Linked DNA regions of Homo sapiens. The protein of the gene in region 2 purifies or fractionates together with the protein of the main gene of each other region. This does not show direct contact. Each region holds a gene or a part of one and is shown on either strand. Other genes may lie near its edges.

Region 1 (7,798 bases), on a different chromosome or scaffold from region 2:
GTAGGTCAGAGCCCTGCTGGGAAGAGTTTCTGGAGAGGGGTCATATAATCAGAATTATGTCTCAGAAAGAGAATTCTGGCTGTCTCAGAGAATGAACTGAGGTCAAAAATGTCTGTTACAGCTGAGAAAGAGACATTGAAGTCACTGCAGATTTTTCCCTGGAAATGCCTCCAAACAAAATAGACATTGTGGTTTGTCCATACCAAGAGTACTCTGTGTGGTTTGGGTCATGACACGTGAATTCAACAAGGATTTATTGAGGTCTTACTATGCGTTCAGCAAGGCCAGCTGCTGCAAAGACTAAAAAAGCCAATGAAATAACTATGGCTTTTTTCATCACCTACAATATACCAGACATTCTTTATACATTTTTTAATCTTTTTTTTTTTTTTTGAGACGGAGTCTCACTCTGTTGCCAGGCTGGAATGCAGTGGCATAATCCTGGCTCACTGCAACCTCCGCCTCCCAGGTTCAAGCGATTCTCCTCCCTCAGCCTTCTGAGTAGCTGAGATTACAGGCACGCGCTACCAAGCCCAGCTAATTTTTGTATTTTTAGTAGAGACAGGGTTTCACCATGTTGGCCAGGATGGTCTGAATCTCTTGACCTTGTGATCCACCCGCCTTGGCCTTCCGAAGTGCTGGGATTACAGGTGTGAGCCACCACGCCCGGCAAAAACTTCTTTTTAAAGACTCCAAGAAAGATTTAATGTGGTACTTCGAAGACGATCTCAGGGCTTCTAAGAATCTTAAGTGCATTGTCCCACTGCAGCCTGACATGTAAAGTAGAGAGAGATCTATTTAAAAAAAAAAAAATGAATGTGAATCTTGGAACATGGAATTAAACCTCAGCAAGATTTATATAAATAAAGTTTTTGAGAAAATTGTATATAAATCTTGGAGCATGGTGTGAACCTTAATAAGATATGGAAAATCTACATGGTTTTTAAGATACTTGTATTAATGAAACAACTGCCAGCTTAAACCAGAAAAAGTGCAAAATGAAAAGAAGTTTCTAGACCTTTCAGTTTCTCCTGGCATGAATGAAGCAGACTGAGAGAACTGCTCAGCTACAAATATGGGCCATTCTTTTTTTTTTTTTTTTTCTTGAGACGGAGTCTCGCTCTGTCACCCATGCTGGAGTGCAGTGGTGCGATCTCAGCTCACTGCAACCTCCCCCTCCTGGGTTCAAGCCATTCTCCTGCTGCTCAGCCTCCCGAGTAGCTGGGACTACAGGCGCCCGCCACCACGCCCAGCTTAATTTTTTGTATTTTTAGTAGAAATGAGGTTTCACCATGTTGGTCAGGCTGGTCTTGATCTCCTGACCTCATGACCTGCCCTCCTCAGCCTCCCAAAGTGCTGGGATTACAGGCGTGAGCCACCATGCCTGGCCTGGGCCATTCTTAAGAAAAGGAAATACATCTTAAAGGGAGGAGCCTAGATATCAGAGGGCAAAACCAAAAACTTGAGTAGGGCAATGGATTAAAACAAGGATCAGCAAACTACAGCCCATAGGGCAAATCCAGCCTATTGCTTGTTTTTGCACAGCCTGTGAGCCAAGAGGCCTGGCAGCTTCAGCTTTTGCTTCTAGAAGGCTGGCTGCCATGACTACCGTGGTGTAGCAAAAGAGGAGAACCTGGAGGATGTAAGACCAAGGAAGAGAAAGGCCCAGCCTGCTCTTTGTCATTCTAGCAATCCCAGCTCAGGCGCCAGACGAATGAAGCTGCTTTCAATCTTCCAACCCCAACTAAGCTACCCAACCCAACATGCTGTGGAGGAGCACCAAGCTGTCCCCACTGGGTGTCCTGCTTAAATTGCAGAATTACAAGCAAGTAAATGGTTATGTTTAACCACTAAGTTTATGGGGATAATTTGTTATACTGCAAAGGTAACTGATACGAGGGCCTTGGGTGCATTATTTAATCCCTGGACTGGGCAGGAGATTTTATTTGGACTCCAATTTCTTCATATGTAAAAATCAAGAGCCGGGTATAGTAATTCACGCCTGTAATCCTAGAACTTTGGGAGGCTAAGGTAGGCAGATCACTTGAGCCCAGAAGTTCGGGACCAGCCTGAGCAGCATAGCAAGACTTTGTCGTCTCTACAAATAATAGAAAAATTAGCCAGGCTTGGTGGCGTGGGCCTGTGGTCCCAGCTACTCAAGAGGCTGAGAGGAGAGGATTTCTTGAGCCTCCGCAGTCAAGGCTGCGGTGAGCCCTAATCATGCCATGCGTTCCAGCCTGGGTGACAGTGTGAGATCTCAACTAAAAGATATAAGAATAATAATAGTAAAAATCAAGGATAGGGCAATTTAATCTCTAGGGTCCCTCCCTGCTTTAACATTCTATTATTCAGTGAATAATTGTATTTTATCATTCTATCACATTTAGTGAGTGCCTATCATTGCTAGCTAGGCGCTAGTAGGTGTTGAGTGCAGCAGATGAAGTGTGAACAAAACAAAGTCAAGCACTTAGAGAGCAATATGGACAACAGCAGACAATCTGAGGGCTGATGTAAACATTCTCCTCAACCAGGGGGGAAAATAGAGTCTTCTGACTAATAAAAGATCTTTTATACTGGAAGAACTGGCCTCACATTCCTCAGAAATAGCAAACTATGACTTCTAATAGCTTCATTTTTATGATAACATCAGTGCACATTTCTTTAGCATGATGCAAAGACTGGTGATTGTACAAATCTATAGAAGTTAGAATTTGTGGCATGCCCAAGATGAGCACAAAACTCTTTTGGACATTTGATGGCTTTTATATATTCCACATGATTTGAATTAAATTTTATCTTCTGTAAAGGGCCTATCACAGCACGATTAGGAGTAAGAGACTGTGGAACCTATCTTGAGATACACAGAAGGGAGGCTGAATCGTGCCCAATATTACTGTCTGCCTGTGTTCCCCTAACCTTCCAAAATGTTCACACAAAGTAAGCAGATAAACATTGTTTCTGACTTTGAAGCTTTCAGGCTAAATTGAAGAGCTATAAATGTAAATCAGCAATTGTACCCAAAGTGTTGCTTGATTTTCTATTTGGCTCTGTGGTAGGGCCCATCGCGTATAATTCCTCGTGAAAGCGCTGGGTAACAGAAAGCTTTGGGCGGGTTAAAAGACCTCAGCTGTGGCCGACTTTGCCTGTGTCACTCTATGCGAGTGGGCAGAGCACTGAATGTCTGTTGGCCTTGCTATCATTCTCTGATTCCCAGGAGTGAATTGACGCTCAAATGGAAAGTAAAAATGGATGTTAAGATAAATGGGAGATTGAAACACAGAATCATCAAAACCAGGAAAAAGAGCTGCAGGAAGTAGTGTGCAAGGAGGGGTTTAAAAAACGCAGCCAGAGATCCTCGGGATTCTCAGCGTCGCTTTCCTGTTAGTTTGAGGTTCGAATACAGTATTTGCGTCGTCTCACATACAACAAATAGGTGTCTGCCTGCACGTTGCCAACGTGACTCTTGGAAGAAAAGCGAGAAGCAGCAAAACCGAGCAAGGGAGTTGGCTAAACGGCTGCAAGAAACACACACACACACACACACACACACACACACACGGAAGAAAAGCGAGAAACAGCAAAACCGAGCAAGAGAGTTGGCTAAACGGCTGCAAGAAACACACACACACACACACACACACGGAAGAAAAGTGAGAAACAGCAAAACCGAGCAAGGGAGTTGGCTAACTGGCTGCAAGAAACTCTCTATCTCACTCTCTCTCTCTCTCTCTGTGCTGCAAGAAACTCTCTCTCTCTCTCTCTCTCTCTCTCTCTCGGAAGAAAAGCGAGTAACAGCAACACCGAGCAAGGGAGTTGGCTAAACGGCTGCAAGAAACACACACACACACACACACACACCACACACGCACACACACACCCCAGCAGTCATGAAAGAAGGAGAGGAAAGTTCTTTGTTGAAACTCCGGGTTCGAAACACACACACACACACACACACACACACACACACACACACACACACACACACGAAACTCCGGGTTCAAAGCTATGGGCCCCACCCCGCTCAGGACTGCCTGCTACGAGGCCGCGCAGAGATGCCCCAGGCGCGGAGAGAAGCGGAGCACAGCCGTGCTAGGGACAGGGGCGCCACCCTGGGCGGGACTGAGGTGGGATCCTGGCTCCCGGCTTTGGCCTCCCAGCCCAGGCTCGGGGCTTCCTGGCCCTCGGAGGCCGGGGCGGGCCAGGCTTTGCAGCACAGGGCGAATCTCCCTCCCTCCCCGGGCGCCCCCCGGGAACTGGCGGCCAGAGGTTAAGCTGACATGTTTGCAGACGGTAATGGGGCGCTGGATGCCAACAGCCCCAGCTCAGGGGAGTCCAGATTTATGTTTCTTGGAACAATTCTTTCCTCCATTGCATTAACGCCAAAAAAAAAAAAAAAAAAAAAAAAACACTTAATCAAGCCCAGAGTCTACTACTAAAGTCTTGTTAATTTATTAACCCAAGCCGAGGCTGAGAGCTCGACGTGGCACTTAAGAAGTAAAATGAGGAAAGGAGGAAGAAACGGGGTCCCTGTGGGCCTCGGGGCAGCCTCGGCCGGGCTTTCTCGGAGGGCAGGGCCAGGGGCGCTGGGGCCGCTCCCGCGTGGCGCGGCTCGGGAGCGTTCCAGGGCGCGGTCCCTGCGGGCCGGCGGGCCGGGGTGAGTCACCCCTGACTTGGGGTGGGAGCGGGCCGTGTAAGGGGGAGGCGGGGCGGGGCGGGGCGGGCCTCGCCTCGCCTAGGGAGGATGTGGCGGGTATAAAAGCCCCACCCAGGCCAGCCGGCTCTGCTCAGCATTTGGGGACGCTCTCAGCTCTCGGCGCACGGCCCAGGTAAGCGGGGCGCGCCCTGCCCGCCCGCGATGGGCCGCCAGCTAGCGGGGTGTGGAGACGCTGGGAAGAAGGGTACGGCCTGGCAGGGAGGCCCCGGCAACTGGCCCCGGAGGCCGTCGGGGGCAGGGGGCTGAAGGGACGGCCGGCACTGGAGAGTCTTTGGGGAGGGGGCTCAGGGACAAGGTGTTTGGGGCAGGGGTGAGGGGCCACCGGCCCTCGGGCCGGGAGGGTGCAGGGCAGAGGTGGTGGGGGGTCGGGCTTCTCTAAGAAGCCCTAGCGGGAGCGGGGCGAGGCGGCGTGGGGAGAGGGGCGGAGGGAGGCCCCGCATTCCAGACGCGCCAGGCGCCGCCGAGGCAGGGCGTGGCCGCCCAGGGAGCCGCAGGTCCCCGGCGCAGCAGTAGCAAGTGGGCTTTCCACTGCCCTCTAGAAAGTGCCCCCCATCTGCTCTAAGTTACTGTACTCGAAACAAACGCGCGCTTGTGGAGTTGAACCGACCAGCAGGAGGGAAGTAGCGGGGGAAGACGAGAGGGGGGAGTGTGAGTAGGCACCCCTCAGCCCCCCATAAAAGAAGACATTAAAACGTCAGTTATTCCCCTTGCTCTAGGTTATCTTGTAGCATAGCAACTTCGGATTTCACTCTACCCGGAGAGTTTCCCGCTTGGTTGAACACATTGGCCTCAGGAAGGTAGTGTCCCCCATGATTCTGTGGGGAGGGTTGTCCTGTTACTCGCCATGATGTGACAATGAGTCAGGAACTGAGAGTAGAGAGAAGGGCGTGGCCCCGGGGCCTCTCCCTTCTGGCCGCTCTGTGCAGCTGGCCCCACTGCTGGTGTGGAGGGCTTGGGTTCCATCAGCCGGCTGTTGAGAAGAAGGAGGGGAACACAGATAAGTTTCCTCATCTGGGAAGGTGGCTTAAGGATGCCTATTCTTACCACCACCCAGAGTTATTGGAGATTTCAAAAAACACAGTCATTAGGTAATAAATGTGTAAAGTACACAAAAAACAAAGTGCTGTGCAAATGCAAAGTGTCATTTTTGTAGTAAGATTGCCGTTTTAAAGCTGTGGGTGTTCTGAGTGCGTGTGTAAAAGAGCAGTGGCCTCATGGGTGCACGCTGGGCCATTACCAAGAACCTTAAGTTGTTGGTGTGCAAAGGCCTGGGCCCCAGACTGTACTGATGGATTCTGTTCACACGTGTGTGCTACTGTGCCTGTCTGGAACTTGGTGACTTGGAATGCAGAATGCACTTTCCCACTGAAACAGTGTTGCAGAAGGTGCTGACGTTCCCAGGCTAGCCCTGAAAGACCTTTTTAACATGCACTGCCTGATTATGGGATTGGTGGTGGGGAGGTGGAGGGTAGTGAGGGGCAATGTGTGTGTAGGAAGACTAAATCACTGAAATATTTTTCTGGAACTTTTTTTAGCTTTAAGGTTGACACTGAGTAAATTATTTTAATTGGAAAATTATGTCTTTGCCCCTGTTCCACTTTCTTTTTTCCACCTTCCACCTCCTTAGAGACGCTCTTCTGGCTCTTCCGTGACGCATTACAACAGCCATCCAGGCCGGTCCAGTTACGCTGCATTCCTTCCTCCTTCCCATTTCGGCGGACCTGCATCCAGCTAGAGACTAGCAGATTGAATCGATATTCATTAAGTTAGGAATGGTTGGTGGTCCTAAGAGCCTCAGCAACCGAGAGGAGTCTTGTTATTTAAAAAACAACGATACTGGGCGTGGTCGTGGGCCTGTAGTCCCAGCTGCTCAAGCTAGTGGATCTCTTGAGTCCAAGGCCAATGTGAGCAACATAGCAAGACCCAGTCTCAAAAAATAAATACATAATAATAATAAAAAACCCTCGTTCACCTAAACAGATCTATAATTTATAGAATGTAAAGCAGCAATATTCAGGCAATATTAAGGAAGATTTTTGGTAAGACTGGGGCAGCAGAGGTGCCCTTGATGGGCAAGGGCCAGGAGTGTTAACACAGTCCTGCTTAGTAATTTCTTCCCTTCTTCCAAGTCTGTCGATTATCTAAAGGTCAAGGGTTTGTCCAAAAATGTCCCTTGCATCTGCAGTGGAAGGATGTGACATGTATGTGCATTTTTACAATTGGAGGTTTGTGATTTGGAGACCGTTTAGATTTTGTAATTTCCCGCAGTGCCAACTAGACTGCCTGTGGTAAATGCCCAGGAAATATTGCTGACTCACTGACTTTGATTAGGAGCTCAGTCTTGCACTGGAGTCTCAATATTTAGCATCTTGTGTCTTTGAGCTATTAAACTATGGTATTGATTGACATTAGGCTCGCAGTCATGGCCGTTAGTTTCCTGGCTAATTTCTGATTTAAGTAGTTTTCCTGGCAAAGTAGATGTGCTTCTATAATTGCTATTGATTTTGAGGGCTGTAGGCTCTTCCTACACCACTGGGCCTAGAATCTGGCACTAATGCATTGTCTGGAGCCTTTGTTCTCACCCTTCGCTTGTGCAGAGCCTGGAGCCTGCGGAGACATTTTTCATTAAAGGAGAGCGGGATTGTCACAAAAGGAGTCTCAGGCTCTAGTGGGCTGCTTTAAACAACCATTTATTCCACAAAATATTAATTACCTACTGTGTTCCACTCATAGTTATGAGCACTAGGGATACAGCAGTGAACAAAACAGACCCCCGCCAAAAATAAAATCCCTGCTCTTTAGACCTTAAATCTGGCGGAGAGAGAAGGAAAAGAGACAAAATAAGTGAATTGTTGGATTTTAAACTTTATATTTTCCCAAATTAATACTAGTTTCTAAACTTGGTGGGAGTTCATTTCCCCTTTAATCCAGCTGTTCCACAGACCTAAACTTCACATTTTACCTACCTCGGGGAAGTTTTGCTTAAAATTATGGTGTCTTAAGCTGCCTTCCAGATTCAATTGTGAGAATTAAATAGAAATGGAATGTTCCTCTTTTTTTTCACATGAGAATCCTCTTCACTTG
Region 2 (7,037 bases):
CTGGCAGGCTCCAGCTGGCTGCAGGGAGCTGCTGCTCACCTCCTGAAGGCTGTGTCCACATGGGAATCTACATCCAGTGCTTCTAGAACTCATTTTGAGAGGAGCCAGAAATTAGGATTTTAATGTGAAATGAAGAAACTGTTTAGGCTAAGCCTCCACCATTTTGTGTGTAGCCAGGCACCTGACCAACGGCTTCACAATTTGGATCAGTCAGAGACAGGATTCCAGGCAACTGCAGCAGGAAATACTTACTTGACAGAGAGGGAGAAGTCCCCAGGAGCGCTCTCACTCTCTCGGATAAGAAAGGCCCCATCGTGCCGCTGTTTGCTAAGCATTTCTTCTGCCTTGGCTCTGGGGATTTTGCCAAAAAACCACCTAAGGAAGGAAGGCAAGCTGGTCAACATCTGCTTCCCCACAAAGAAACGGGATATCCAGCCTTCAAAATGTGAGTAACACAACACTCCTTGCCAGAGGAAGGGGCCTCCCTCCTCATCCTCCAGCCTCACAGTGCCCAAGATCGACACTGGGTTGGGTCCCCAGAGATGGACCTTCAAAGGTCTTTAGCCTACTCCATTTCCCAGAAAGCGACTCACCAAGGCACTAACCGTGGGTCACTCTTTCTATAGAGGGAGACATTTGAAAATGGGCCCCCCAGGCCAAAGCCCACTGGACTCCCTACTGACTCATGACAAAGGCGCCTGGGGAAAAGCTCAGGCCTTTGGGCTTGGTGTACGGGATGAACTGCCAAGGAGAGACTGGCCCCTTCCTGCAGCCATGTGATAAGATCACAGCTTCACCACAGTGGGACTAAGGGAAAGTGGGGAGGAAACCTGGACGGCCAGGAGCTGGAGGCAGGGTTACTTTTGCTAACAGCCCAAAGGCAAAAGGTTCAGATAGTATGAGGGTGCCTCTACCAGTAACTAAGGTCAGCATTCCTCTCAAGGCCTGCCTCTGGGGCCACTGCTCAGAGTTCAGCTTTCAGAAGCCACCAGGAATATTGTAATTTACCATATGCTCAGCAGCTAGCTGCAAAATTCAGATTTTTGAGGCAAGTTGCAGACTCTTCTGCTCCCAATTGCTGATTCACCTTGGCCAGAAGAAAAAGTGGCTAAATTCATGAAAAACTGTGAAGCAACTGGCTGTGGCTTATCAAGAGGAAGAGGAGAGGAACACTTCTACAAGAGCTTCAAGTCAAGCTGCCTCACTATTTCAAATGAAAACTATAATTAGGAAGAAGAAACTGTGAAAACCATGTTCTCTTCTCAAAATTGTCTTTAGTTATCATTTTTAAAAGCAAAAGTTATAGCAAATAAAGACCTATAAACATGGAAACTGGCATTCATTTAATATGCTAATTATAATATCAAAAGTCCTTTTAATGGACCAAATAGTCCATTAAAGTTGTAAATCTAACTTACATATCTTTTCTTTTTTTTTTTTTTTGAGGAGTCTAGCTCTGTCACCCAGGCTGGAGTGCAGTGGCACGATCTCGCTCACTGCAAGCTCTGCCTCCCGGGTTCACGCCATTCTCCTGCCTCAGCCTCCCAAGTAGCTGAGCAGCTGGGACTATACATAGGCGCCCGCCACCATGCCCGGCTAATATTTTGTATTTTTAGTAAAGATGGGGTTTCACCGTGTTAGCCAGGATGGTCTCGATCTCCTGACCTTGTTGATCCGCCTGCCTTGGCCTCCCAAAGTGCTGGGATTACAGGCATGAGCCACTACGCCCGGCCCTTTTTTTTTTAGATAGAGTCTCACTCTGTCATCAAGGCTGGAGTGCAGTGGCACGATCTCGGCTCACTGCAACCTTCGCCTCCTGGGTTCAAGCAATTCTCCTGCCTCAGCTTCCCTAGTAGCTGGGATTACAGGCGGCCACCACCACGCCCAGCTAATTTTTGTATTTTTAATAGAGACGGGGTTTCACCATATTGGCCAGGCTGGTCTTGAACTCCCGACCTCGAGATCTGCCCGCCTCAGCCTCCCAAAGTGCTGGGATTAAAGTCGCGAGCCACCACGCCCGGCTAATTTACATATCTTACTTATAAGCAACCATATTGGAAGATGTACCTAAAATAATATACTATACTCAAATTCAAACAGAAAGATGTGATCTGCTAGGAAGGATACACTTAGAAGCTGCCCTTAGTAACTTTGTCCTTGTGTGTGTGTGTCAGCCTCTAGGGACTCTTAGTAACTCTGAATAGTCTGACATCTACCTGCTTGGAGTCTTTCTCATTTTGCATACTCTACTGCCAGGATGCTGAGGAGCTGGGACAATAGATCCTCCTGCTTCTACAAATAACTCAAGGCTAGGGCCTGCAGTGCCTGGAAATCAGGCCACACAAGAGAAATCACATATCACTAGAATAGAATGCTCTCTAAATATAAAAGGACAGGCTGGGCCCGGTACCTCATGCCTGTAATTGCAGCACTTTGGGAGGCTGAGGTGGGGTGAATCACTTGAGGTCAGGAGTTTGAGACCAGCCTGGCCAACGTGGTGAAACCCACTCTCTACCAAAAATACAAAAATTAGATGGGCACAGTGGTGGGCACCTGTAATCCCAGCTACTCGGGAGGCTGAGGCAGGAGAATCACTTGAACCTGGGAGGCAGAGGTTGTAGTGAGCCGAGACTGTGCCACCGCACTCCAGCCTGGGCGAAAGAGTGAGACTCTGTCTCAAAAAAATATATAAATAAATAAAATAAAAAAGGAGGCTGGGTGCGGTGGCTCAATGCCTGTAATCGCAGCACTTTGGGAGGCCGAGGTGGGCGGATCATCTGAGGTCAGGAGTTCGAGACCAGCCTGGCCAACATGGAGAAACTCCATCTCTACTAAAAATACAAAATTAGCAAGGCGCGGTGGCGCATGCCTGTAATCCCAGCTACTCGGGAGGCTGAGGCAGGAGAATCGCTTGAATCTCCGGGAGGCAGAGGTTGCGGTGAGCCGAGATCGTGCCATTGCACTCCAGCCTGGGCAACAAGAGTGAAACTCCATCTCAAAAAAATTAAATAGGCCGGGTGTGGTGGCTCACGCCTGTAATCCCAGCACTTTGGGAGGCCGAGGCGGGCGGGTCACAAAGTCAGGAGATCGAGACCAACCTGGCTAACACGGTGAAACCCTGTCTTTACTAAAAATACAAAAAATTAGCCAGGCGTGGTGGCAGGTGCCTGTAGTCCCAGTTACTCAGGAGGCTGAGGCAGGAGAATGGAGTGAACCTGGGAGGCGGAGCTTGCAGTGAGCCGAGATCGCGCCACTGCACTCTAGCCTGGGCGACAAAGCGAGACTCGCTTTCAAAAAATAAATAAATAAATAAATAAATAAATAAATAAGGACACTTAACGGTATTGAGACCTTCTCAATCGGGGGGCCCCAATCAACGGTATTTAAACCTTCTCATATCGGGGGGCCCTGGGTTTCTAATATAAGTGTATGCAGCATGCATCTGACTGGGTACAGCAGTGAAAATCCACACATGGCCTCGGCTGGCTCTCCCCACACTGCCCCACACTCCCCACCACTGCCACTTCCAATAGCAATGGTGAGGGTGAAGATTCTCAATCAGCAAGGCTCTCTTTCCTCCTAGGCCCCCAAGATCTCTCCACTAGGGAGGTTTTTTCCCATTTGTAGGTATAAAATAATGAATATAAACTGAAATAGCCTAGATGTACATGAAGCAAACATAAAAAGTAAGATGCTTCCCTCAAACTCCCCAGAGGCAGCACGTGTTGGCGGTTCTAACACTTAGGTTTCCAGACCTTTCTGTCTGGTGTCACATAGACATGGCTGCTGTGTTTTCTTGCCCCCAGCTTAAAATTAACGCAATTTTATTTTCAATTAAAAAAAATAAATTGTAGTGAAGTACAAATTATAATGTTTAAAAAGTACTCTAACTGGAATTAAAACCAAAAACCAAAAAAACCACAACTCTGTTATAAGCACCCAGATCAAGAAATAAAAAATCTGGCACCAGGTGCAGTTGCTCACGCCTGTTAATTCCAGCACTTTGGGAGGCTAAGGTGGGAGGATTGCTTAAGCCCAGTAGATCAAGACCAGCCCGGGCAACACAGTGAGACCCTGTCTCTACGAAAAATAAAAAATTAGCCAGGCATAGTGGTGCACAGCTGTAGACGCAGCAACTTAGGAGACTAAGGTGGGAGGATAACTTGAGCCCAACCTGGATGACAGAGCAAGACCCTGTGAATAGCTGTCACTACTAAAACACTGAAATACCACCATTCTACATTTCTATAGCATTTTATATCATTTATAAATTTGACTTTTTAAAATGATGATATGTACATGTGACTACATGCTTACGGGTGAATTTTTTTTATTTTTTATTTTTTGAGACAGAGTCTTGCTTTGTTGAATAGGCTGGAGTGCAGTGGCGTGATCTTGGCTTGCTGCAAGCTCTAACAGGCAAATGTTTTGAAAGTCTTTAAAAAGATGGGCTTTGGGCCGGGTGTGGTGGCTCACACCTGTAATCCCAGCACTTTGGGAGGCCGAGGCGGGCGGATCAGGAGGTCAGGAGATTGAGACCATCCTGACCAACACAGTGAAACCCCATCTCTACTAAAAATACAAAAATTAGCCAGGCATGGTGGCACATGCCTGTAATCCCAGCTACTCAGGAGGTGGAGGCAGGAGAATCCCTTGAACCAGGGAGTTGGGGGTTGCAGTGAGCCGAGATCGCGCCACAGCACTCTAGCCTGGCGACAGAGCGAGACTCCATCTCAAACAAACAAACAAACAAACAAACAAAAGATGGGCTTTGGCAGGGTGCGGTGGCTTACACCTGTAATCCCAGCACTTTAGGCCAAGAGCTCGAGATCAGCTTGGCCAACACAGTGAAACCCCATCTCTACTAAAAATACAACAATTCGACGGGAGTGGAGGCACGCGCCTGTAGTCCCAGCTACTCGGCAGGCTGAGGCACAAGAATCGCTTGAACCCAGCAGGCGGAGGTTGCAGTGAGCTGAGATAGCACCACTGCACTCCAGCCTGGGCAACAGAGCAGGATTCCGTCTCATAAAAACAACAAGAACAACAACAAACAAAAAACAAAAAAAAAAAAGGTGGGCTTATACAACAGAAATAGCAAGGGCGAGAGCTAAGGGGGTGAGGGGAGAAGGCTAATTTTCCAATATAATTCTTTACTACATCCCGTAGGCTCCCATCCATATGCATTTAGTGTGAAAAGCACATATTTGGATCCACCCCTCAAGCATATACAACTCATGCTGCAGCACTAATGCCAACAATCATTTTGTAGTCTAATTTGTTAACTTGAATGCTGCATTAGCTGACATGGTGCTACATTTTATGCTTCCCTCTTCCTCCATAACCCCTGCTCCCCACCCCCACAAACAAACAAACAAACAAACAAAAAAACAGGAGGTGGTAGGATGTGGAGGAGAAGGCCTGGTACTGACCCTGACCCTATACTCATGAACATCCAGCCACAGAGCAGCCCTATACAACAGCAACTACGTCTGCAAGGCCAAACACCTACATAGGCACAAGCATGGTCTTTGTTAGCAATATGGTAGACCTGAATAAATAAGGGTTTTTAAGTTGCTAGTTGCCTTTTCAGAGCTCAGAGTGGCTGAGCACTGCCCACCCTTTGGGCAGAGTCTGCAAATAACAACACAGCTGAGCCTGTGCTGGGTGCTTCTCCATCAATTCTTCTAAAGTTCTTCATAGTGGGGACAAAAGGTCAAGGCAAGGGAGTGACTGTCCCAGTCAGCCTGGCAGTAACTACAACTTTCCAAGGAAGGTAGCCTTTCCTATCTTTCCTCAACAGTCAGATTTAAATGCCTGTGTCACCCGAAACACTGAAGAAAAATAAGAATTTCGAGCCACAGGCATGTCATATAAGAAGTGTAGTATGATGTTCTGTTGAATTCCCTTTCAATCTGAAAATATGAAAACAAAAGGGAACTGAAGTCGATGTTGTGTTTGGATCTAATGAAGGAGCCAGCAAACAATAATGGCCTTCTGCCCAAATCTGCCCACAACCTAAGACTGTTTTTTAAATTTCTACTCGATTGTTAAAAGAAAATTTTTACAAGGAATATTTGACAGGATTGTATGCAGCCCACAAAGTCGAAATTACTTGCTATCTGGCTCTTCACAGAAAAAGTTTAGCCAACCCTTGACCTACAGTTTCTTTTGAGGACGACTGAAGGAAACAGAAGTACACAAATTATGTGGCTTATATGGGACCTGGGGAGGATGTGCTGTGATCCAACAGGCCCCTCCCACTCAAGATGCGACAAGCCACCTGAAAGTCTCCGCCACCAGCTGCTGTGAAAGCAAGTGGACAATGTCCAAGGGCATTCTAGTCTGAGCGTGGAAAGCCTCAGCTCCCCTGACACACTTGTAAGGCAAGCCAGCAACTGCTTCTGTGCTAGGAGCAGGGCCTGTGAATGAGGGGTGGGTGAGAACGGGAGGACAGTGGTCTGCAGGGGCTCTCAGGGGTCCACTATGTTGCGTTATTAATAAAATCGTGACAAGGGTAGCTTCTGAAAAAAAATTAAAAATATTCACTGCTCCCAGCAGCCTGGAGGACAGCATATTTTGTTCTCTTGTAAGTAGGAACACTAAGATGGAGGGATAAACATTTATTGAGAACTATTAGATGCCAAGCACCGTACTCTGGGGATACAAAGATATTAAGATACCGTCCCACAGCATTAGCACATATAAACACAAAATCATCTAAGTACCTTTTCTAAAACTCAAAAAAAATGCAGAATTATAAAACACATCTGGCTCTAAGACATATTTAACAGAAAAAGAATTACGGACCTGCACCAACTATCGTTTTATTTTTGAAGATCACTGACAGTTATTATCAATCTAAAACATATAATATTATTGACTATGATATATTATTATATACTATTAACATGCACAATCAATATCCTTTGTTAATTCCCTAGAAACGTGAATAAAAAGTATGACATCCATCCCAGTGATCTCAATTTTAAAAAGAGTGTTTGAAACAAGGAGGTGGGTCCAACCCTTCCAAGACT
Region 3 (4,560 bases), on a different chromosome or scaffold from region 2:
AGGGACTTTAAAGAAATATGGATGCCTGGGATCTTACTCCCCACCCTCAGAAATTCTGATGTAATTGGTCTGGGAATGGCCTCTCCCCAGGTGATACAAACATTCAACCATTTTAGAACCAGTTCCTATCCTTTTCATGTAAGTTATTAGATATCCCCTTTAACCTTTTTATTTCTCTCTTTACCTGTCTAAATATCTATGGGGAATGGGTAAAGAAACAGAACCTATGTACATTAAATGAATTGCTATCAGAAAACTGTCAGCCTAGATAGAAAAAAAAATAGATAGGGTGAAAGGAAGCAAGTGGTTTGTAATTTTTCTTATTTCTGGGCAAAGATGACTCCAGGACCCCACAGTGCAGGTTTAACCTAACAGGACCTGTAAGGAAACAAGCCAGAAAAATGCTAGGTGTGATGTGTCATGAAGGAGGCATGGATAAGGAAAAACTGCCAAGTTCAGGAATGATTTCATCAACTTAAGGGCAATAACAAACTAAACACACAATAAACTTTAAAATACATTTCCATTTTTAATTTAAAAAATAAATAACAGCAAATCTGAACAAAATTTTCCTACTTCAATGCACATCTTCCTAACTGTCCATGTTTGAAATCCAGATAGCAACAAAATCATGGCAAAGGCATTTTTGACAAAGTTTAGACAAACGACTCACAAAATATGGCTAATAGTAGATGAGTTTGGACATCTGATACTGCAGACCAGCCTTGGCTAGATCCTAGGCGTCAGAGTGAAATCATGAATTTCCTTTTGTAGATTAGAATTGATGGTCCAACTCTCAACCCACCAAAGAGAAACTTACCTTTTCCAATTTAATTGTAAAAGCCAGATATATCACTGAATGAAGGTATCTAAGGAAGTGATATTTATCAACTTCCCAAATGATACAGAGAAGGAAAGCATAATTATTAAAATGAACCTAAAGTCTAGATACAGTGGGCCAGGCTGGTGAAGCCTTAGACTACTATGGAAATGACATTGTTTATAAGATGTTGCACAAATTATGGTAATCTGTGTCAATATTTCAATGTGTGCTGGATTATTACTGACATATTCATAATTTTAATGTCCACAAATCTTTTTATCTTAATAGCCAGGGTATGGCAGGGTCAAAGCACCACCTGGGATGATAAATGGGACAAGTATAGTCCATGGACCTCAAAGCCTTTGTACAGAAAACTAGTTTCCTTCAGATCCTCCCCCTCTTTTTGTTTAAATAAAAAGCAGAATAAAAGCAGCTAGGGCTGAAGGAATTCTAAACCTCAGGTAGCTTCAAAATTAAAAAAAAAAAAAGACAGGCCCAGGGACTGACTACAAATTGACTTGTTAAAAGGTGCACAGTCTTTATAGCCTTGTTTTGTGTTGATGGTGGGGTTTTTCTCCCCCTTTCATTATACCTGAGAAGTATGAGAAAGGAAGCCACAAATTTGAAGGGCCTTATAAATACCTTTCACAAAATGGCACCATGGGCATGTGGGAACTTTCTGGGGTGCTGAAAACAGTGTATGTCTCTATCTTAGAGGCACGGATGTGGGCAAATAGCTATGTGAAAATTACCCATCTGCACGGCTAAGATTTGTGCACTTAACTATACATGAGTTCCATCTAAATTTTAAAATAAATTAGCCAGTGACCTAGGGGCAACTAGAGGAGAAGGACTCTTCCAGCTTGGAAAGAGTAAACAAAGGTAGGTTGTTGTCTCAAAGCCTGCTTTATATCTTGTTCTACATTAGGAAATTGCAGTGTGGCTGCAGTTTTTAATGGATTTCCTTGGCAGAAGAAAATGACTGCAATTCTGGAATCAGAGGGTTAAGGTGGAGGAGGAGGAAGCAACTCATGGCCCAGCAGTCTTCTTTAGGGTTTCATTTTCATCTGGTACCACTCCCTTTCCAATCCTACAGCACACCAGAGTGAACTGTCTTTGTATACTGGGGCTGTTTCCATTGAACACACTCAACCACTACATCCCAAGGGGCTAGTACCATGACTGGCATTCCATAAGAACTTGATATATGTTGAATAAAACAATCCTTTAAAAAAAATCTTAAAGCAAGACAAGTCACTAGAACAAAGAAAGAGAGGAAATAAAGATTTAAAAACACCTCCAACCGTATACCAGTATTCACAAAAGTTGTGACAATTTTAGGGATAATTTCAATGTCTTTCAATACTCCAGAGAGTTCTTAGCAAGAAAAATAAAGACCAATTCTTTCTCTTTTTTCCTCCTTGCTCCTTATCTCTTTATATTTAATGGAATCATGAGGTGTTTCTTTGCAGTCATCCTCTGACTTCAGGACACATTATTTATGAATTCTGTCAAATGTGACTCTTCCTACCCAACACCTTCCCTAAAAAATGAACCTTCCATCGTCCGCTGTAATCTCTTAGCCACAATACTACCTGGAATCCCTTTTGTTCAGGCAGGAGAGAGCTATTATTTCCATTAAGGTGGAAAGGGAATCATACGGAATATATTCTATTAAAAAGAGAAGGTATCCAGACAGTGATGTATCCTATCTTCCCAGCCTCTGCTCAAAGACCAGGCTGTGGGACTCATTTCTACTGCTCTGGAAGGATAGCCTTGAGGTTTGGTTTTTTTGGTGACCCAGTTTTATATCTTTCTATTTTAATGGCAGCCCGGCAAGTAGAGTGTGGCACACAAATCCCCTCTAGCCGGTCTGCTGGGTGACTTCTCAGAAGTCGTGCCAGGCTCTAGGTAAGCCCCTACATATCCTGTCTGTTGCCTCCTCCTTTCTCTACAGCTTGAGTTCTCTCCATTTAAAATCCTCTTGAGTTCTTATTAAGTTTGTCTCTAGTCATAAATAATCATGTAAAAGACCTCAAAGGAAACCACCATTTGGAGAAGGGCTGTATGTGCAGAACTAACTTGCACTCACATTCCAAACTACCTTGGAAGAAAAAAAAAGTATGAGTAATGCTCTTAGAGAGTTCCAGTTCCTACTCAGGCCTAGCAGAGGAAAGCAGGGACCATCAGGTGAGTACCTCTTCTTTCCCATATTTCATCTCATTGAAACCTCACAACAACCGATGCAGGAGGCATTATCCCCATTCTGGAAGGTGAGAAAATGAAAACTCAGATAATTTCAAATAATTTTTGTGAGTTTGCAAAGTTAACAGATGTCATAACTGGGATTTGAAACCAAATGGGTTTAATTCCACCAAATGGGTTTAATTCCAAAGCCCATGATTCTTCCATGCTAGCACAATGCAGGTTTTCCTGGGTGGGGGTAAAGGATCACCTTTTCCACACCCCTTCCAGAATCTGCATACTCATTTCTTAAGTAACGCCCTGGACACATCTGAGAGCTTTTGCTTCCCTGACCCTCATGATGAACTGGTGTAGTTCTCTCCTGAAAGGGTGGCGGTGAAACAGGAAACACAGAGAATCAGGCAGGCAAATACCAGCTCTGGCAGCAGAAATGGAAATCTCTTTCTCTGTTCTCTTCACCTCCTTAGTGGAAAGGACTCTGGGCAAGGTTGTGGGAGAGACCACCAGCAAGTTTCCCCCAGTGCTGACCTCTGCCTTCACAGTCAAAAAGCTTTCTGCTTTGCCACAAATATCTAAGTAGCATAGAAATATCTGGGACATTTCAAATATTGTTCCAACCAGGGGTAAATATTAAAGAGTCTGTCAGAGTTGTCTTCTAGAGATTACCTAGGTATAGCCTAATTTAGCAAGCTGGGTTATTAGTAATAATCTGTAGCACAATTTTCTGTGTGTAGCCTCAATTTCCTTATTTACTAAATAAGGGGACTGGTTGGTTGATCTTTGAGGCTTCAAGTCCAAACGTCTAAAACTTCATGTGGCTATTTATGTATGTAATATTTGGTCACCTAAATCGCTCCATTTTTTCTTCTGAAAGGAGTACTACTAGTACCATTAGCAAGCAATCAAATTAATTCCACAATCAAGAGGAATAAATAATCAAAGAGAAATATTGCACTGTATTCTCCAGGATAAAATCAGGTAGCAGATGCGGCTGCTGAGTCACCCAAATGGGTTTTAGAAAAGAAACTGCTGAATCCAGACTGGTAAGTCCCTTGTAGCCAGTGATTTGCGCTCAGAGGAGGTAATAGGACAAAAAAAAAAAAAAAAAAAAAAAGCCGTATGTGCAAAAGGAAGAGCTTCAAAGAAGTCCGTAGGGAAGGAGTGACTGCGACGCAGTGAAGGCCATTAGTCAGGAGTGTGGTGGGAGAGGGAGAGGGCAGCTTTCCTGTGCCACAAGAAGATGGGAGTTGGGTGGACTCAAGAACTCAGGGCTGATGTTTGAGTCCATGCTCTTTCAATGATAGACACACATACCTGAAAGCAGCCAATCTCCATTAAAAATGTGTGTTCTTTTCCTCAAAGGAGATACAATAGACATCAGAAAGATATGATTATTTCAGCTACCAAAGTGTACTTGATATCCATCTCTTCCAAGATGCAATATGGGATGGGATCAGTGTGTCCACGTGAGAAAAGTACCTAAGTCTCAAGCACAGCTTTTCATAAGCAAAGCAAAAAATCCTTCCAAGGAG
Region 4 (5,365 bases), on a different chromosome or scaffold from region 2:
AGAAAGGCAGGCCAGGAGAAAAAACATATATGTAAAACAAATCTGTAAAGATAAGCAGATACAAGACTACAAAGCCCCACAAAGAGGGCAAGCTTTGCCAAATGGGACTTTGGCCCCTTGCAAGATATGCCAGGTCCCGTAGCTATTATATTTTGGCTTATGTGTGTTGGAGTTCGCCTATTTATGGCAACCAACAGACAGTATGTCAAGTACTTTACTTAAGCACCTGCTTCTGTCTCAGGTATTGGACTCATGGGAGCTATTATTTCAAAACCTCTCACTCACAACTTACTGCTATGTGCTTAATTCCTGATGTCACTAATGGAAGCAGATACTCCATGGGACTATCTGAATGATGATGGTTTTAAATTAATCAAATTAGCTACAGTGTTTGATGAATAATTTCTATGGTAACTGCAGATGAAGCTCAAGACAGAACATGCTCTTCTATTTTTCTGTGTAATTCTTCACATTAAATAAATGCCTCCTTGATGAGTGGAGAAAAAATAATTATATTCCATTGAAGCTAAGAAATAAAGCAACCTGTTTATTTTTTAAAAAGATAAACATGGCTGATCTGCACTAATCATAACATTTTGAAGGAAATAAAACAATATTCAACATTTCTAGACTACAAATAAATAATACCCTGTTTTACTTATTCTGTTAACCAAAGATGAAGGTGGAAATGAGAAAATTGAATGCTTATGGACTTAAAGGTATCAGACATGGCATTTGATTTTTGGAAAATGAAGACATAAATGGAAAATGGCTATGGCAATGAACTTAAGAATGACATTTAAAAGTTTTTACACAAACTTTACATACTTGACAGACTAAAACATTTTTCAAGTCCTTAATTATGAGAACAGCAGCAAAATTTAAGACAATTAAAAATCGGCATTTAAGAATCTGCTGTATTATTGTGAATAAATGCAAAACAACTGTATCAGTGAAGCCTGGGAAAATCTCAATTACTATAATATTCGTGCACTGGCTTTACATTTCACTTTTGAATGCGTTCCCTCATCCTGGGTGCAAACTGGGTACCTTCAGATACAACAGCTTGGACGGGGAACAAGATTACGACACATGGCTGTAGAACCAGTCTCGCTGCGTTACAGTTACAGCATATAAACAACTCTGTCTAATAAAAACAGTAAAACCAGGCTCAAGTGCACACCCTGTGTTACAAACACATCACATATCAGGATTATAAATCATAGAAATAAAGACAAATAATGGCATGAAGGGCATGATAGTTTATTTTTAAAAATTGTACCACACTGATCATGATGACCAGCATACACATGATAATGGCTTTTCTCTTGGGTTTAACATTGCAGTAGTTTTGCATACTGCAATGTTTCAATAGGACCAAGAACGTTAGAGAATAAAGATCTTAGATGAAAATGAACACTAATAATTCTAGTGTCCTCCCCCATAGAATTAATGTAAATCCCGTATGAATCAGTGGCATTATAATGTTATGTGGTTATGAAGAATGAAATTTCTCTTAGAAGTAGGCAGCATGAATTTATACTTACATAAGTATAACTTATACTTCCTTGTACTTTCATCTTTAGTTTTTATAATTTAAGCTATGTCCACCCTGGCTAAAGTACAATCATACAATATACCTCAGATAATTTCCATGCTACCATTGCACAAGTTTAGTGATTTTACTATTAAAAAAAAAAAAATCCAACCACCATCAAAATAAAGAGGCAAATAAAAGTAATTTTTAAATCATTTGAAAAGCATGGTGCTTATTTGTCCAATACAGACTCAAACTTAAATGCTATAGTTATAATTTCCAGACTTCCGCAAAATTAACATTTATATATACATATGGGTTTTGTTTATAGAACTGTATTTTGCAATCAACAAGTTTTAGAGACAACATATTTGGTTACAGTTCCACATATCTGTAGTAAAGACAAAGCCACATAATGTTCATGATGTTAAATCTGGCTCTAAGTAACCTAAGGTACAAAATTTTGACCAAATATCAAAATGATAATCTGATCTTAAAAATACAACCCATATGAAACTACTTTTTAGAGAGAAAATGTGCTGTTCAGTAATTATTTCAATAACCTTTTCTGAGTATCTGCAAACTGATCCTTTTCTTTAATCTTTGTGACTCACCAATATTTCAAAGTGACCTCTTCACTTCCATGTTACCATTTCAGTACCCAGGGATTTCTGAGGCAGCATAAGTTTGACTTCATAAAAACAGTAGATACTCTAACAGTGACAATTTTTAAATCTGTAAACTCAATAATCACATTAGTTAGCTCAGCAACTATAAAAACATTGAGATTGGGGCACTGTAAGCCAGAATCTCTTTGTGCTTTTTAAATTAAGCTGCTTTTGAATCTTTTTGGTATTTATCAGCCATCTGTATTTCCCTTATAATAATAAAAGAATACATTTAAAATAAATTTTAAGGTTAAATGTCCTGGGGGGGGGGGGCTCATCAATACCTTTTTTTTTTTTAAAACATAGTATAAATCAATTATCTTTTTCCTTCAGTATTTGGAATAGCAAAAATTATTTCTGGTCCCTCCTTAGATCAATCCACACCACTTTTCATGACATATTAACACTGAAATTTACAGACATCCCTGAAAAGTTTTTAAGTAAACAAGTGAATCACAGTGGAGTCTCAATCAGTTAACAGTGTAGATCCATTTTTTTTCAAAAAACTGAATATTAAAAGAAAATCTTCAACCTAAAAACAAAAACAAAAACAAAACCCTCCTAAGAACTAAAGCCAAGTGTGTGTTGTCAATGATTCGATACTTTTATCCCCTGACTGATTTAGACTCCTCCTCCTCATGTTGTAAGACATGTTTGCTGAAATCTTCACGCCAAGCTTTTGGGACGCCTGGGTGAAGAGGCTATGCTACTGTTGCATCTAAGGGAATAGTGGCACTGTTTCTTCCCTAACAGACTTCATATCCAAAGATGAGCAATGAATCTCACTCCCCTGCATTCACCAGCATCTTATCAGGAGATAATACTTGCTGTGCAAATTGATGACAGCTGATCGTCCCACCCCACCGCCCCCCCCACCCCCTACTGCCAATATAAGGTTATCATCAGTTTGTCATTATATGCACTGGCCTTTCACTCTTTCAATCAGAAAAGCTGTGGCTTACTTTAAAAAGGTGGGGAAGGGACGGGGAGAAATGAAAAACCAAGAGTCTAAAGGCACAAGGTCGCATAGCTGCTCTAGTTGGAGTTTGTAAACAGAGAATAGGTTGAATTTAGGTAATCCCAATCTATGAGAGTAAAAAGGCATCCACAGCAGGCTTGTATCCAGCCAGCTTCTTTGAGACCCTTCATGGGTTTTGAGGTCTACAAAGTATGCACTAAAATACCCATACTTCAAAAAGCAATAAGGCAAATAGTATAATCATTATTCCAAAAGTTACAATGGTAGTGTAGGCATACATAGTATAATTTAGTTACAATGTGTGGTACTGTTTCTATTATATAACCATATTAACTGTTTATTTCCTACATAATTATAAATTCAGCTGGGTTTCAGATGAACACAAAACCGTCCTTGTACCACCACTGATAGCTGGCAATAGCTCTTTGACAGCAGTTTTTATTCTGCTGTAGAAATTATCCTTGAACTGAAAAAGTCCATAATCCAACGTCCAGTCATTAAACACTATCATATTTGTGAAGAGCTTCTTCCAACTTCTGGGTAACTTTTTGGAAAAATATTATTTGTTGTTGTAAGAAATGCTGCATCTGTGATTTAAAGTCTCTCACTCGAATTTGATGGAAGTGGTGAATTTCAGCCAAAGTGGCAAAAGAAATAGTGTTACAGCGATCCTGAATGCCGTCAGCCTTCTGCACCTCCATCTTCCCTTCCTCCACGTGTCGCCTACTCTCCTTGACTTTGGTAAGAGCTCCTGTAGTTAAAAATAACAATTAATTAAAAACCTATATATCCACATATCCCAAGAACATAACTACATATTAAACAGAATCTTGGGCATTATAAATAGTTGCCCAAACTATTTTCAATACCTTTGAAATTTAAAGTGAGGACCATAATTACTCATTTTAAAAAAAGAAGGAATCTGGTAAAGTTTCTGAAAACACTCCCTTTGTTAAAATTTCTCTTCAAAAACTAGTGTTTGTTACATTGACCAAGAATCTGTAGTATCCCATCTCTTCCAAGTAGAGATGCTATACATAACTGATAATAAACTGCAAGGAAATGTCCTTAAAAAGACACAACAAGAAACTGCAGTTTTCACAGGCTCAAAAGGTGTGACATCATTATTTCCACATATATTAAGAGAATTATACTGTTTATAAAAACATCCCATAAAGGATCCAAACCCACTTCCTCAGAAAGTCTCACTAAATAATTCAGACTCTAGAACCAGTCTCTGAAACAAGTTAGTACCAACACAGGTTGTGTTTTGGAATCATGTCACAGTCATGGAGGGTGCTTGGCAATGTTGCCAGTCTACAATTGGAGGTCACCCTCATGAGGGCTGGCCTAGCCCATTATCTTGTCATCCAGAGTAAACACCTAGCTGAAGTGCTCAGCACACAGAAAGTGCCTGGTGAAGGGGTGAATTGCGAACACATGTCTGATTCTGACTTCACGTTGCATCGGGAGACCCACACCTGGAGTACAAGGGCTTTAATAAGAATTTGCCCCTTTTTTGGGACTATAAGGATCGGTGAGTGTTAACTCTGCCCTAATGATGACTTAGGAATGATGCCAGCGGTTCCATAATCTCATGCCTAGAAGTATCAACAGAGGGTGTTGCAGGGGTGGGGGTGAAGGATTGACCACTCCGGCAGGTGCCATACGAACGCAGGCCCTCCCCCGAAAGCACAGTCATACAAAGACACAAAAGTTTGAGGATGTTTAGGGGTAGGAAATAGGCTATTCCTGAGTTCTTAGGAATGAGTAGTAATAAAGCTCAAATCACTTGAACAAAGCCAGCTTAAGAATTCAGATTTCCCGACTGTGCCTAGCACTCATTCCACTAAACCATACTGAAAGGCAAGACAGAACACAGAGACAAACAGCTAGAGTGCCTGGCTTGGCAGTCTGAGAACACAGTACTACTGAGGAGGGAACCAGGAACCTTGAGTAGGAGGAGGTACAGAAACTGAGAGACTTTGTTTCGGAAATGTTGTTTTGCCCAATAGTGAAATATACAAGGGAAGATGCCCTATTTCTAAATTTCTTCAAATCTCCTAAAGAATAATATAATATTAAACAAAACCCTTAAACGTAAAGCAGTATGCTTTTTTGGCATAGTTCAAAGACCTGAGAAATGAAAAAGCACCAACAGCAAATTTCATCCATATATAT

Evidence for each region.
Region 1: the proteins of GRB2 (region 2) and ANXA2 purify together in Homo sapiens (affinity purification with western blotting; 5 studies listed by BioGRID and IntAct, with this or other methods). This does not show direct contact.
Region 3: the proteins of GRB2 (region 2) and DOCK5 purify together in Homo sapiens (co-immunoprecipitation; 5 studies listed by BioGRID and IntAct, with this or other methods). This does not show direct contact.
Region 4: the proteins of GRB2 (region 2) and SNX18 purify together in Homo sapiens (co-immunoprecipitation; 5 studies listed by BioGRID and IntAct, with this or other methods). This does not show direct contact.

Annotation. Positions count from the first base shown.
Region 1 is NC_000015.10:60,394,971-60,402,768, reverse strand, and holds the start of ANXA2 (annexin A2), read left to right. Parts: upstream 1-4,782; 5' UTR 4,783-4,826; exon of another isoform or gene 4,827-4,855; coding exon of another isoform or gene 4,856-4,898; intron 4,899-5,430; exon of another isoform or gene 5,431-5,511; intron 5,512-6,341; exon of another isoform or gene 6,342-7,798. UniProt on the Homo sapiens protein: Calcium-regulated membrane-binding protein whose affinity for calcium is greatly enhanced by anionic phospholipids. It binds two calcium ions with high affinity. May be involved in heat-stress response.
Region 2 is NC_000017.11:75,325,646-75,332,682, forward strand, and holds part of GRB2 (growth factor receptor-bound protein 2), read right to left. Parts: intron 376-7,037; coding exon 253-375; intron 1-252. UniProt on the Homo sapiens protein: Non-enzymatic adapter protein that plays a pivotal role in precisely regulated signaling cascades from cell surface receptors to cellular responses, including signaling transduction and gene expression.
Region 3 is NC_000008.11:25,411,661-25,416,220, reverse strand, and holds the end of DOCK5 (dedicator of cytokinesis protein 5), read right to left. Parts: 3' UTR 510-4,560; downstream 1-509. UniProt on the Homo sapiens protein: Guanine nucleotide exchange factor (GEF) for Rho and Rac. GEF proteins activate small GTPases by exchanging bound GDP for free GTP. Along with DOCK1, mediates CRK/CRKL regulation of epithelial and endothelial cell spreading and migration on type IV collagen.
Region 4 is NC_000005.10:54,541,749-54,547,113, reverse strand, and holds the end of SNX18 (sorting nexin-18), read right to left. Parts: intron 3,936-5,365; coding exon 3,682-3,935; 3' UTR 528-3,681; downstream 1-527.